Linked DNA regions of Homo sapiens. The protein of the gene in region 2 purifies or fractionates together with the protein of the main gene of each other region. This does not show direct contact. Each region holds a gene or a part of one and is shown on either strand. Other genes may lie near its edges.

What was found.
Region 1: the proteins of MYEF2 (region 2) and NSUN4 purify together in Homo sapiens (affinity purification with mass spectrometry; one large-scale study listed by BioGRID and IntAct). This does not show direct contact.
Region 3: the proteins of MYEF2 (region 2) and ERLIN1 purify together in Homo sapiens (affinity purification with mass spectrometry; one large-scale study listed by BioGRID and IntAct). This does not show direct contact.

What each region holds. Positions count from the first base shown.
Region 1 is NC_000001.11:46,350,710-46,354,363, reverse strand, and holds part of NSUN4 (5-cytosine rRNA methyltransferase NSUN4), read right to left. Parts: intron 1,497-3,654; coding exon 1,336-1,496; intron 1-1,335. UniProt on the Homo sapiens protein: Mitochondrial RNA cytosine C(5)-methyltransferase that methylates cytosine to 5-methylcytosine (m5C) in various RNAs, such as rRNAs, mRNAs and some long non-coding RNAs (lncRNAs).
Region 2 is NC_000015.10:48,150,743-48,154,396, forward strand, and holds part of MYEF2 (myelin expression factor 2), read right to left. Parts: intron 3,152-3,654; coding exon 3,050-3,151; exon of another isoform or gene 1,565-3,049; intron 1,543-1,564; coding exon 1,492-1,542; intron 1,201-1,491; coding exon 1,132-1,200; intron 830-1,131; coding exon 731-829; intron 430-730; coding exon 358-429; intron 1-357. UniProt on the Homo sapiens protein: Transcriptional repressor of the myelin basic protein gene (MBP). Binds to the proximal MB1 element 5'-TTGTCC-3' of the MBP promoter. Its binding to MB1 and function are inhibited by PURA.
Region 3 is NC_000010.11:100,161,932-100,165,585, reverse strand, and holds part of ERLIN1 (erlin-1), read left to right. Parts: intron 1-1,490; coding exon 1,491-1,582; intron 1,583-3,654. UniProt on the Homo sapiens protein: Component of the ERLIN1/ERLIN2 complex which mediates the endoplasmic reticulum-associated degradation (ERAD) of inositol 1,4,5-trisphosphate receptors (IP3Rs).

The DNA.
Region 1 (3,654 bases), on a different chromosome or scaffold from region 2:
ACTTTGGGAGGACAAGGTGGGAGGACTGCTCAAGCCCAGGAGTTCGAGGCCAGCCTGGGCAACATAGTGAGACCCCGTCTCTACAAAAAATCATTTGCTGGGCATGGTGGCACACTCTAGTCCCAGCTACTCGGGAAACTGAGGCAGGAGGACCCCTTGAGCCCAGGAGGTTGAGGCTGCAGTGAGCCGTGTTCACACCACTGTACTCCAGCCTGGGTGACAAAGTGAAAACCTGCCACTCAAAAAAAAAAAACTTTAAAAAAATTAATATGGAGATTTTCAACATGATTAATAAGAGATTGTAAATTAGATACTATCCATTTGGCAAAAAAATTAAGTTTGATAGCACCAATATTGGCAGCATGTGGGAAATCAGTACTCATTCATTACCAGTAGGAGTGAAACTGGTTTAACCTCCACAGAGAAATTTAGCAATCGCTATCAAAATCTTAAATGGATGTAAACTGTTATTCAACAACTATACTTCCACAATGTCAACAAAATTAAAAAAGGATTTAACCCCAGGACACATTATTAAATAAAAAAATACAAAGTTCAGAATAGTGAGTATAATATAATATACTACCGGCTGGGCGCAGTGGCTCACGCCTGTAATCCTAGCACTTTGGGAGGCCGAGGCGGGTGGATCACGAGGTCAGGAGGTCAAGACCAGCCTGGCCAAGATGGTGAAGCCCCGTCTCTACTAAAAAAAATACAAAAATTAGCCGGGCGTGGTGGTGGGCGCTTGTAATCCCAGCTACTCGGGAGGCTGAGGCAGAGAATTGCTTGAACCCAGGAGGCGGAGGCTGCAGTGAGCAGAGATCGCGCCATTGCACTCCAGCCTGGGCAACAAAAGCGAAACTCCGTCTCAAAAAAAAAAAAGAAACAATCGTTATCTATAGGGTGGGGAAGTAGGGGGCTACAGGCCAGATGAGAAAAACTCACTTTTCATTGGATACTCTTTTGTGCCTTCTGAATTTTGTACCATGTGCTGTACTAACATTCAAAAATAAATAAATGAGCTTATTCTTACTTACCTTCATGAGGCTTTCTGAGCAACCAAGTGACTTGAGAAATAAAGTAAGCCTAGTAAATTTTTCCCCTACTCAAATAGTTTCAAATTCTTTTTTGCTGCCAACTATCTTTAATAGAGATAATAACCAGTCATCTAAGCTGATTTTTCTTTTGGTCAAATCACCAATGTAGAACTGGCCAGTCCAGAAACAGCTCTACATGCTCAAACATAGGGGCTGGATCCTAACCCCTCAGGCCCTAGAACCAGGATGGGGAGGCCGCATTAAGCTGGATGCATGTCCTAAATCAAGAATCACTCACCCGGTCATAGGTGTCCCCCTCCAGTTCTCCCCATTTCCTGCCATCCCATGAGGTAACTCGAACTTGATTTCCATCCCTGATCTCTTCAGGCACATAGCTGTGAAGGATCTTCTGTAGTCTGGCTATTCGGGACGGGGAGAGATCATTGGCAGCAAGATTGCCTATGGAAATAAAGATACTTCAGAGGCCATGACCCAATGAAACATTCCACCAGCAATGGCGCTGATGGAGTCAGACCAATTCTCAGGTAGTCCCAGCCAATGCAAACCCCAGCATCAGGAACATTTATTATGTGCATGGCACAGCATCAGTCATTCTGAGTGGGGGTACAATGGCAAACACCTAAATGGGCCAGAAAGTATCAAAGTTATTTAAGTCAATGAATAAAGCAGACCAAGTAAGACTCCTTTCCTTTCTCCTTTCCTGTCCTCTCTCCCCTTTCTCCCCTTTCTTTCCCCTTTCCCCTTTTCCTTTCCCCATTACTTTCGCCTTTCTTCTCTCCTTTCCCTCTCCCCTTTCCTCCCTTTCCTTTCTCTCCTTTTCTTTCTCTCCCTCTCTTTCCTTTTGTTTTTTTTTTAAGACAGAGTCTCATTCTGTCGCCCAGGCTGGAGTTCAGTGGCACACTCTCAGCTCACTGCAACCTCCACCTCCTGGGTTCAAGTGATTATCATGCCTTAGCCTCCTGAGTAGCTGGGACTATGGGTGTGCACCACTATACCCGGCTAATTTTTGCATTTTTAGTAGAGACAGCATTTCACCATGTTGGCCAGGCTGGTCTTGAACTCCTGACCTCAGGTGATCCCGCCTGCCTTGGCCTCCCAAAGTGCTAGGATTACAGGTGTGAGCCACTGCACCCAGCCACATTCTTTTTTTTTTTTTTTAAAGACAGGGTCTCTGAGTCTGGGCATAGTGGCTCACGCCTCTCATCCCAGCACTTTGGGAGGACGCCAAAGTAGGTGGATTGCTTCAGCCCAGGAGTTCAAGACCAGCCTGGGCAACATAGCGATACCTCATTTCTACAAAAATAAAAATATATTTAAATAATTTTTTAAAAAGAGACTGGAAGGCCAGGCACGGTGGCTCACACCTGTAATCCCAGCACTTTGGGAGGACAAGGCAGGCGGATCACAAGGTCAGGAGATCGAGACCATCCTGGCTAACATGGTGAAACCCCGTCTCTACTAAAAATACAAAAAATTAGCCGGGCATGGGGGTGGGTACCTGTAGTCCCAGCTACTCGGGAGGCTGAGGCAGGGGAAAGGCGTGAACCCGGGAGGCAGAGCTTGCAGTGAGCCGAGATGGCGCCACTGCATTCCAGCCTGGGCGACAGAGCAAGGCTCCATCTCAAAAAAAAAAAAAAAAAAAAAAAGAGACTGGGTCTCACTATGTTGCCCAGGTAGGTCTTGAATTCCTGGCCTCAAGCAATTCTCCCACCTCAGCCTCCCAAAGTGCTGGGATGATGGGTGTGGGCCACCATGCCCAGCCAAGAATATTTATTTCTAAAAAAATATGCTCTCCCACTATTCTGGAAACCTATGGCTCTCTTCATCTTTGGTAGATACTACAGTTTATTTAGCCAAAATCATTCTCCTCTTCCTCCTTATTAATAGAACCCCAATTTTTTGGAAGGGGAAAATTGCCCCAAAAGACTACATTTCTCAACCTTTCTTTAGTTTCGCTCTTGTTGCCCAGGCTAGAGTGCAATGGCGCGATCTCGGCTTACCATAACCTCCGCCTCCCGGGTTCAAGCGATTCTCCTGCCTCAGCCTCCCGAGTAGCTGGGATTACAGGCATGCGCCACCACGCCGGCAAATTTTGTATTTTTAGTAGAGACGGGGTTTCTCCATGTTGGTCAGGCTGGTCTTGAACTCCCGACCTCAGGTGATCTGCCTGCGTCGGCCTCCCAAAGTGCTGGGATTACAGGTGTGAGCCACCACACCCGGCTAAGCCTTTCTTTTACAACTAAGTATGACTATATGACTAACTTTTGGTCATAGTTGTAGGCATAAGTATTGGATAGGAATTCTGGGAAGATATTTTTAAAAGGCTGACATAATTGGGAGATGAAATGAGTCTCTTTTGCCCAATCCTTTCCTCTTGACTCAAATATGGATGTGATGGCTGGACTTCCAGCAGTCATTCTGGACCATGAGGCCTTGCCTTAGAGCTTTACTAGTTACATATCTTCTCCCTCTTAAAGGGAGGGAGGCTAAGGCTGACACTAGCAACAAAATACGTTGCAAAAGGAAAAAGGGAGCTTAAGTCCCTGATAATTGTGGAGCCTCCATACCTGGAGTGCCTATATCTCAGCTTCTCTTA
Region 2 (3,654 bases):
CACTAATAGCTATTATAGAAAATAAGCAAGGAAACAAAGTTGGTGCTAAAGCAAAAGTTGCTCCTGAAACATGATCAGAGAAATCCCCAGATTCCTTAGTTGGAAAGAAGGTTCCTGGATTGGCTGTTAACACATAGTTTAGAAATATCAAAAAAGTAAAATTCAAACAGTTAATTTAGAAATTTCAAACAATAATCAAACAGAAAGGCTTTGCTCAATTATCAAGGTTTCTCAAATTATAGCAAGACACATTAACGTATAAGAACAAAGTATTACTATACTACGATAACTACTCTTGCAAAGTCTTTGCAAGCACTCAAATATTACTGAATAAATTCTAGTAAAATTTAAACCTACTTATTCCAGATCCTACTGGACCCATGTTAGAAGATCCTATTCTTCCTGCAAACCCTCCAATCATTGCACTGCCTAAACAAGGATGGAAAGATAATATACTAATTAATTTTAAATAATCATACTTTAAAATTCCCAAGGTACTATGTGCTCTGATTTACAATAAATGAAAAGCATAAAGTCTTCTGAAAATAGAGTTCAAATATGTAAGATGTTGAAAAAGAGAGCTAGCATATTAAAATCCTTAAAGTGTTTTCTTCAGGTAATAAGTTGTATAAAACATTATGATTTTCTGATTTTTCACAAAAAAAGAGAAACCAAATTTCAAAAATTATAGCCTACAAAAAGAAAAGGAGAAGTATGCAGCCAGCCCTACCAAGTCTACCAAAGGAATCTCCAAAGCCTCGATTTATTCCAATATCACCACGTCCAAAATCTCGCTCCATGCTACTAGTCATCGCACCACGGTACAGCTCTGAAAAAATTGTGCAACAAATTAACCTTTTCAAATATATCAATACATGTTGAAAACATTCAGGAATGTATCTAAATTATGAAAAGACGCGTAAGTCACAAATATAAAATAGTCTGTCATTTACCCAATTTACCTCACATGCCACACATATCATCCCCATTCCCCAGGCCTGTCCTTATCCCCTAGTGCCTATATGCCTTCTGAAGACATTTTTAGCACACATTCCTAAGTTATAGGGGGGAAATATTAATAATAGGGAAAACTAAATATGCACACACTTCCCACTGCATACATTTACCTACCTCCCATTCGGCCAACTCCTCCAAATCCTCCCATGCTATTCATTGCTTCCAGACCACCAAACCCTATTCCTATGGAATAAAGATTAATTTTGAGATCCAACTGTCAGTCATGTAGCTGAAAGGTACGTTTTGTAAATGTTAAATCTCACCAGTAAGCTCTTCATCCACCCTACCTTGTGCAGCTACTTCTTAACACATCACCTTCCTTTAAGTATGTACCAGGCTCAATTTCTGCTAGCAGCCTTTAGAACATGAGCCAACAATAAACCATGACTTTTTTTTCATGGAATTCTCAACACAGTTTCTAGTTTATTAAAAATGGTGATGGGTACATACAAAAAAACAAATCTTTATACATACCTCCTCCAATTCTATTCATTCCTCCAAAACCTGGACCATCCATTCCCATACCTCAAATAAAATACACAGTATGTACTTTAAGTATATTTTATTTTTATGACTAAAAGATGATATAATGCATTATAGCAAAATAGATACCACTGGTATAACCACAATGAAACACTAGAGAAGCGGTAGGGTACAGGAGGCATGGTTTAAAGTGCTATGCCATAGCAGCTGTCTAATCATGAATCTTCAAAAGGGTTTCTTTGAACATTTATCAGACAAGAAAGCAAAATTCACTAGTAACACCCACAACATTCAGTTAGAGAATATCTTGAACTAGGTAATCATTCACTTTTTTTTCCACAATAAACACAGAAATACTACTATCAATGATTTTTTTTTTCCAGCATAGACACAGAAATAGCATTACAGCAGATTTAGAGATCAGGCCAGAATGTAAGGACTCTCTAAACATCGCAGTTAAAAGAGCAGTAAAAATTTTCAAAATATAAATAGTATGTATTTAGGAGAGGGTAGGTAGGTGTGAGAGTCTAAGGGTAAGGGAGAAAACTTGTTTGGATCAGAATGATTATGATAATGAGCCTCATAATTTAAAGTGTGACTACAGCATCTTGACAAAATAGGAATCTGATAGCATTTATTAGTCCATCAATTAAAACAGTAATTCACAAAGTATGGTCCAGGGACTCTTGAGGGTTCAATAGGTCAAAACTATTTAAGTCACCAAATACTACTAAGACATTATTTGATGTTTTACCCTCATTCTCTTGAGTTTAAGGTGTAATTTTCCAAACACTATATGATGTACAATATCACAAAAAACTAAAGTGCAGAAACAGATATAACAGCAATATTAAGCCAAACATTAAAAAGATGTGTGGAAAGGTAAAACAATGCCACTCTCCTCACCAATTTCTTTTTTGCATTGAAAAATAGTTTATTTTCTTAAAACTTTTATGTATGTTAACATGTAATGAGTTTATCATTTTTTAATATGTAATTTTTTTAATTTCTAATTTTTCATTTATAATACAGTAAATACTGGTAATTATAACTACATAAACAAAGCATTTTCGGGTTCTCAACAAATTTTAAAATATAAAAGGGTCCTAACACCAAAGTTTAAAAACCAATCTCTAAAAATGAACTGTGAGTTCTTCCAGGTGAGCAGCCAAATAACTACCTGAAAAGCCACCTTCCCAAATGGATAAACAGATTTTAGCTGCCTATGATATGGTAGCATTTCAGCTACTCCATAAATACTGTTCATAGATGATATATTCTCCTTCTGCCTTCAAGACATTTCAAAATCCAAAATGCTAAAAGGCTAGCTACAACATAGCTGGCCCCAAAGAAACCCTCCTGACTTCTGCCTATCTCTTTCATGTTAGCTGTGCTCAAGGTTTCATTCCTTTTTCAGAATGAAGTGACACCGTAAATATCTAACTATTAATTAGAGTCCTTTAAACATTATTACAGACCACATCAATGGAGGCTTTATTAGCTAGCATATGTATCATTTAAAAAGAAAAGAGGAAGTTAGAATACTCACCACCTGGACCTAAATTTCCCATTACTCCACCTATGTTCAACTGGCTGGCACTAATAGGCTGTCCACCCGGACCAAGTCCCATCCCAATGCCTCCAAGACCACCTAAAACAAAAATGAGAACAATCATTACAAAGATCCATATATGATTAACTAATTGGCAATAAAATTTTTTAAAAAGCTATATACCTGTAGTAGTATCTGTAAAATTTCTGCAAATTTTCATATAAAAGCACTGGTTCTTGTTTTTGTCTAGAAAGTAGCACACTGAAGCCCGACTATAAAACCATTTATTAATGAGAAGTGTTTTATGAAATAAAACATGATATAATACAAAGTACACCTTATACCCCACTTAAAGGTACACTGAGAGGAATAATAAAATACCTAGAGGATTTTGAATAATATCATATCACCTTATATATGGCACACATATCTGAAAATGAGTATCTTGCCCAAATTTGTAGACCCACTTAAAATTTGATAATTACTTTTTAAATGGTTCAAATCAAACTAAAAAGTCAATAACCATGAAAGTATAACACTGAATAAGGCAAATATTATATTACCTAGTTTTCTCATTGATATAAATATTTATTTATATTTAT
Region 3 (3,654 bases), on a different chromosome or scaffold from region 2:
TGAAACCCCGTCTCTACTAAAAATACAAAAAATTAGCCAGGCATGGTGGTGGGCGCCTGTAGTCCCAGCTACTCGGGAGGCTGAGGCAGGAGAATGGCGTGAACTCAGGAGGCGAAGCTTGCAGTGAGTCGAGATAGTGCCACTGCACTCCAGCCTGGGTGACAGAGTGAGACTCCATCTCAAAAAAAAAAAAAAAAAAAGATTGCTTCTGGTGACGGAAAAATGAATATTGTGTGTTTTCTGCTCTCAAATAAATCATAGTATTCAGACTGTCATTTGATGTCTTTATCAATGTTATCAGAGGAAAGGGGAAACTTTGAGGGGAAGTGTTTTGGGGAAACTATTGGAGTTACTTTTCAGATGATTCTGGATCTTTCTTAATTTTATGGACTATTGGAATTCCAGAATTAAAAGCTACCTTGGGATGATCCAGTATAACCTTGCACCTGATAGTAGTGTTTTCTTATACCATTTCTGCCACGTGGTTACCCAGTAGCTACTTGTACATGCTTAGTAATATGCCAGCCATTTCCATTACAGGTTTAGTACCCCTTATCCGAAATGCTTGGGACCAGAAGTATTTTAAATTTTGGATTTGTAAAGATTCTGGAATATTTGCATAGACATAATGAGATATCTCAGGGATGGGACCCAGGTCTAAATATAAAATTTATTTATGTTCTTCCTTGTTGGTATAGTGGTTAGTTTTTTTTTTTTAAGGTATTTTATTTATGTCCCATATACACCTATAGCCTGAAGGTAACTTTATAAAATATTTTAAATAATTTTGTGCATGAAACAAAGTTTACCTTAAGTGCTTATGTGTGGAATTTTCCACTTGTGTCATAATGTGGGCTCTCAAAAAGTTTCAGATTTTGGAGCATTTTGGATTTCAAATTTTCAGATCAGAAATGCTCAACCTGTATTAGACACTGGAAGCCTTAGAAAATTCTCCTTACTGTAAGCCCCAGTTTACTACCTAATAACTACCACCTAGTTATATCTTCTGTGCAACAAATATGGTCACTGCACATGGGTGCCCACCTGAGGAGGGCAGGGGCTGAAACCCAGCTTCATTCTGCATGTCAAACCATGCACCTGCAGGACTGTAGAAACGGCTGGTGCCGTTTTCTAATTGGCACAGAGCTGCTGTATGGACTAGCTGGAGGTCTAACAGCAAAGGAAGTATTGATATATTCCCTTCCAAATCACAGGCTTTACACAATACAACTAGGAGAAGAAAGCCAAACTAAAATTCAAATGTACTAAATTTTTTTCCTATCTCTGGGTGACTTTGGGCAAATCATTGAATCTTTCAACCTCAGATTTATTATAAGTAAAATAAAGTAACACCTCTCTTAACCTACCTTAATGGGTCCAAAAGCTCATGTTGACAAAACGGTTCTCTGACTCACTGTAGGGTCAGAATTACTGGCTGTGACTGCACATAGGAGAATCATTTCTAATTTTTATAACATTTTGCTTCACAGGGAGGCTGAGAAGACAAAACTCCTTATAGCTGCACAGAAACAAAAGGTTGTGGAAAAAGAAGCTGAGACAGAGAGGAAAAAGGCAGTTATAGGTACTTGGATTTCTCTGAAATGATTGTCTCTAAGTACATTTGTTTGTCCTGTTCTTTGTCAGTCTCATTTTGGGTATCATGGGACTCAGTAAGATTGCATCATAGGTAGTGGGGAATTCTGGAATCTCCACTGTACATTCAGATGTTCTAAAGCCTTTAAAAGTAGGTGAGACCAGTACTTAATGATGTGCTGTGGCTGTCCATCATGTTGTTAGATGCTACTGTTGTCTCTTTCAAGAACAGGGAGAATGGATAGGGTTTATAGGCAGCTTGAGTCTGTGGATAGCATTTTCATTTGTACAGATTAAGAATAGGGAAGTTTTTTGACCAAAGTTTCAGATTGTAGTATGCATCCTTGTTGTTGACATGCACTTAGTTTTACCTGGATAGGTAGTGCCGTTTATGAAAGCATGGCAGGATTGTTTACAGTTCATTTCAGATTACAGTGGCTTCCCTTATACTCCAGGTCACTGTGTATTAGATTGCCCTCTTTGGCCCTCGGTTGATGCTGAAAGTTTAATACATCTTTAATTAAATAATTCAATTATAGAGGAATGTACAGAGAACAATATAATGAAAGCTTAAGATTTTGCCTTATTCCCTTCAGATCTTTTTTTTTTTTTTTAAGAAAAAAATTAAATATCTGTTTGAAGCCTCCTTTGTATGTTCACTGGTCCTACTCTTTGACTTTTCTTCTCAGATTAACTTCTATTCTGAAGTTGATGTATATCCTTTCTGTCCATATTTTTATACTTTTACTGTAAGTGTGTAAGAGTTTATAAAATTGTTTTACCTGTTTGAAACTACAAAAATGTTACCAAACTCTTATTTTACAACTTGCCTTATTTTCACTAACATTGAGTTTTATTCATATTGATACATGTAGATCTAGGGATTTTTTCTTTTTTTGGCATTTTATCCTTATTCTCTGTGAGATGGTAGATCGTTTATGTTTAGCTGCTACATTTTTCGTTCTATGAGCGGGCCTAGTTTTATTGTAATGAATTACCAATGAGGAGTTAGGTAGTTTCTAGTTTTTCCTTATTACAAACACTGCCACAATAACATTCTTATCCAGTGCCTCCTGGATACAGTGTACATGTGCAGGTTTCCATAGAGTAGCATTACTCAGTGTATGGTGTGGGCCAGTGCCCTATCACCAGCTTTTTGTTTCTGAGCCTCAATGAGATGAGTATAGAAATTGAGAATGAGTGTTTAGAAGTTTTTATAGCATTTTAATACAGCAGTTTTATGTCTGTTGAATCAAAAATAAAAAATCAGAGCTTATATATTTATGTTTTTGTTTTTTAATTTCTTTTTTCTAGTACTGTAATTTGTTTTTGTTATAGTTTACAATTTATTGGTTCCTCATAAATTGAAATACACACACAAAAAGGTAAGGTATTTTTCCACAGGTGGTTTGAGAAGCACTGCTCTAGAATAGCTATCTCAAAGTAGAATTGATGGGTCATAGGGTAGCATGTCTTCACATTCAACATATTGACAAATTGCTCTCTCAAGTACTTCTTTGATTTTACCATCTCTTCAACAATATTTGATATCCAGTTTCTATGCTGCCATATTTGAATTCCCATTTCCACACATCCTTCTTGGTCCTTGGAGTTATCAGACTTAAAACTTTATGTCTGTTTAATGGAAGACATGGTATCACATAATTTCAATTTGAATTTCCCTGATTGTTAGTAAAGTTGAATATTGCTTATTGGTCATTCAAGTTTCCTTTTTTGTTGTTGTTATATGAATTGCCTGTTAATGTCCTTAGCCCATTATTTGATTGCTTTTTTGAGTTGATTTGTAAGAGTCCTTTCTGTCTCCTGGATACTGATCCTTTTTCAGATTTATGCATTTCCAACATCTTTCAATTTGTGGCTTGTCTTTGAACTTTACAATGTCTTCGATATACATATATGTGTAGTTTTTGTGTAGACAAATTCATTAGTCTTTTCCTTTATGTTTTGTGCTTTTCCTATCTTAAGAATTCTTTCCCTAGTCCAAAGTAAGACTTTTATTCTAAAAGTTTTAAAGTTTTGCTTTTCATATTTAAGTCTTTA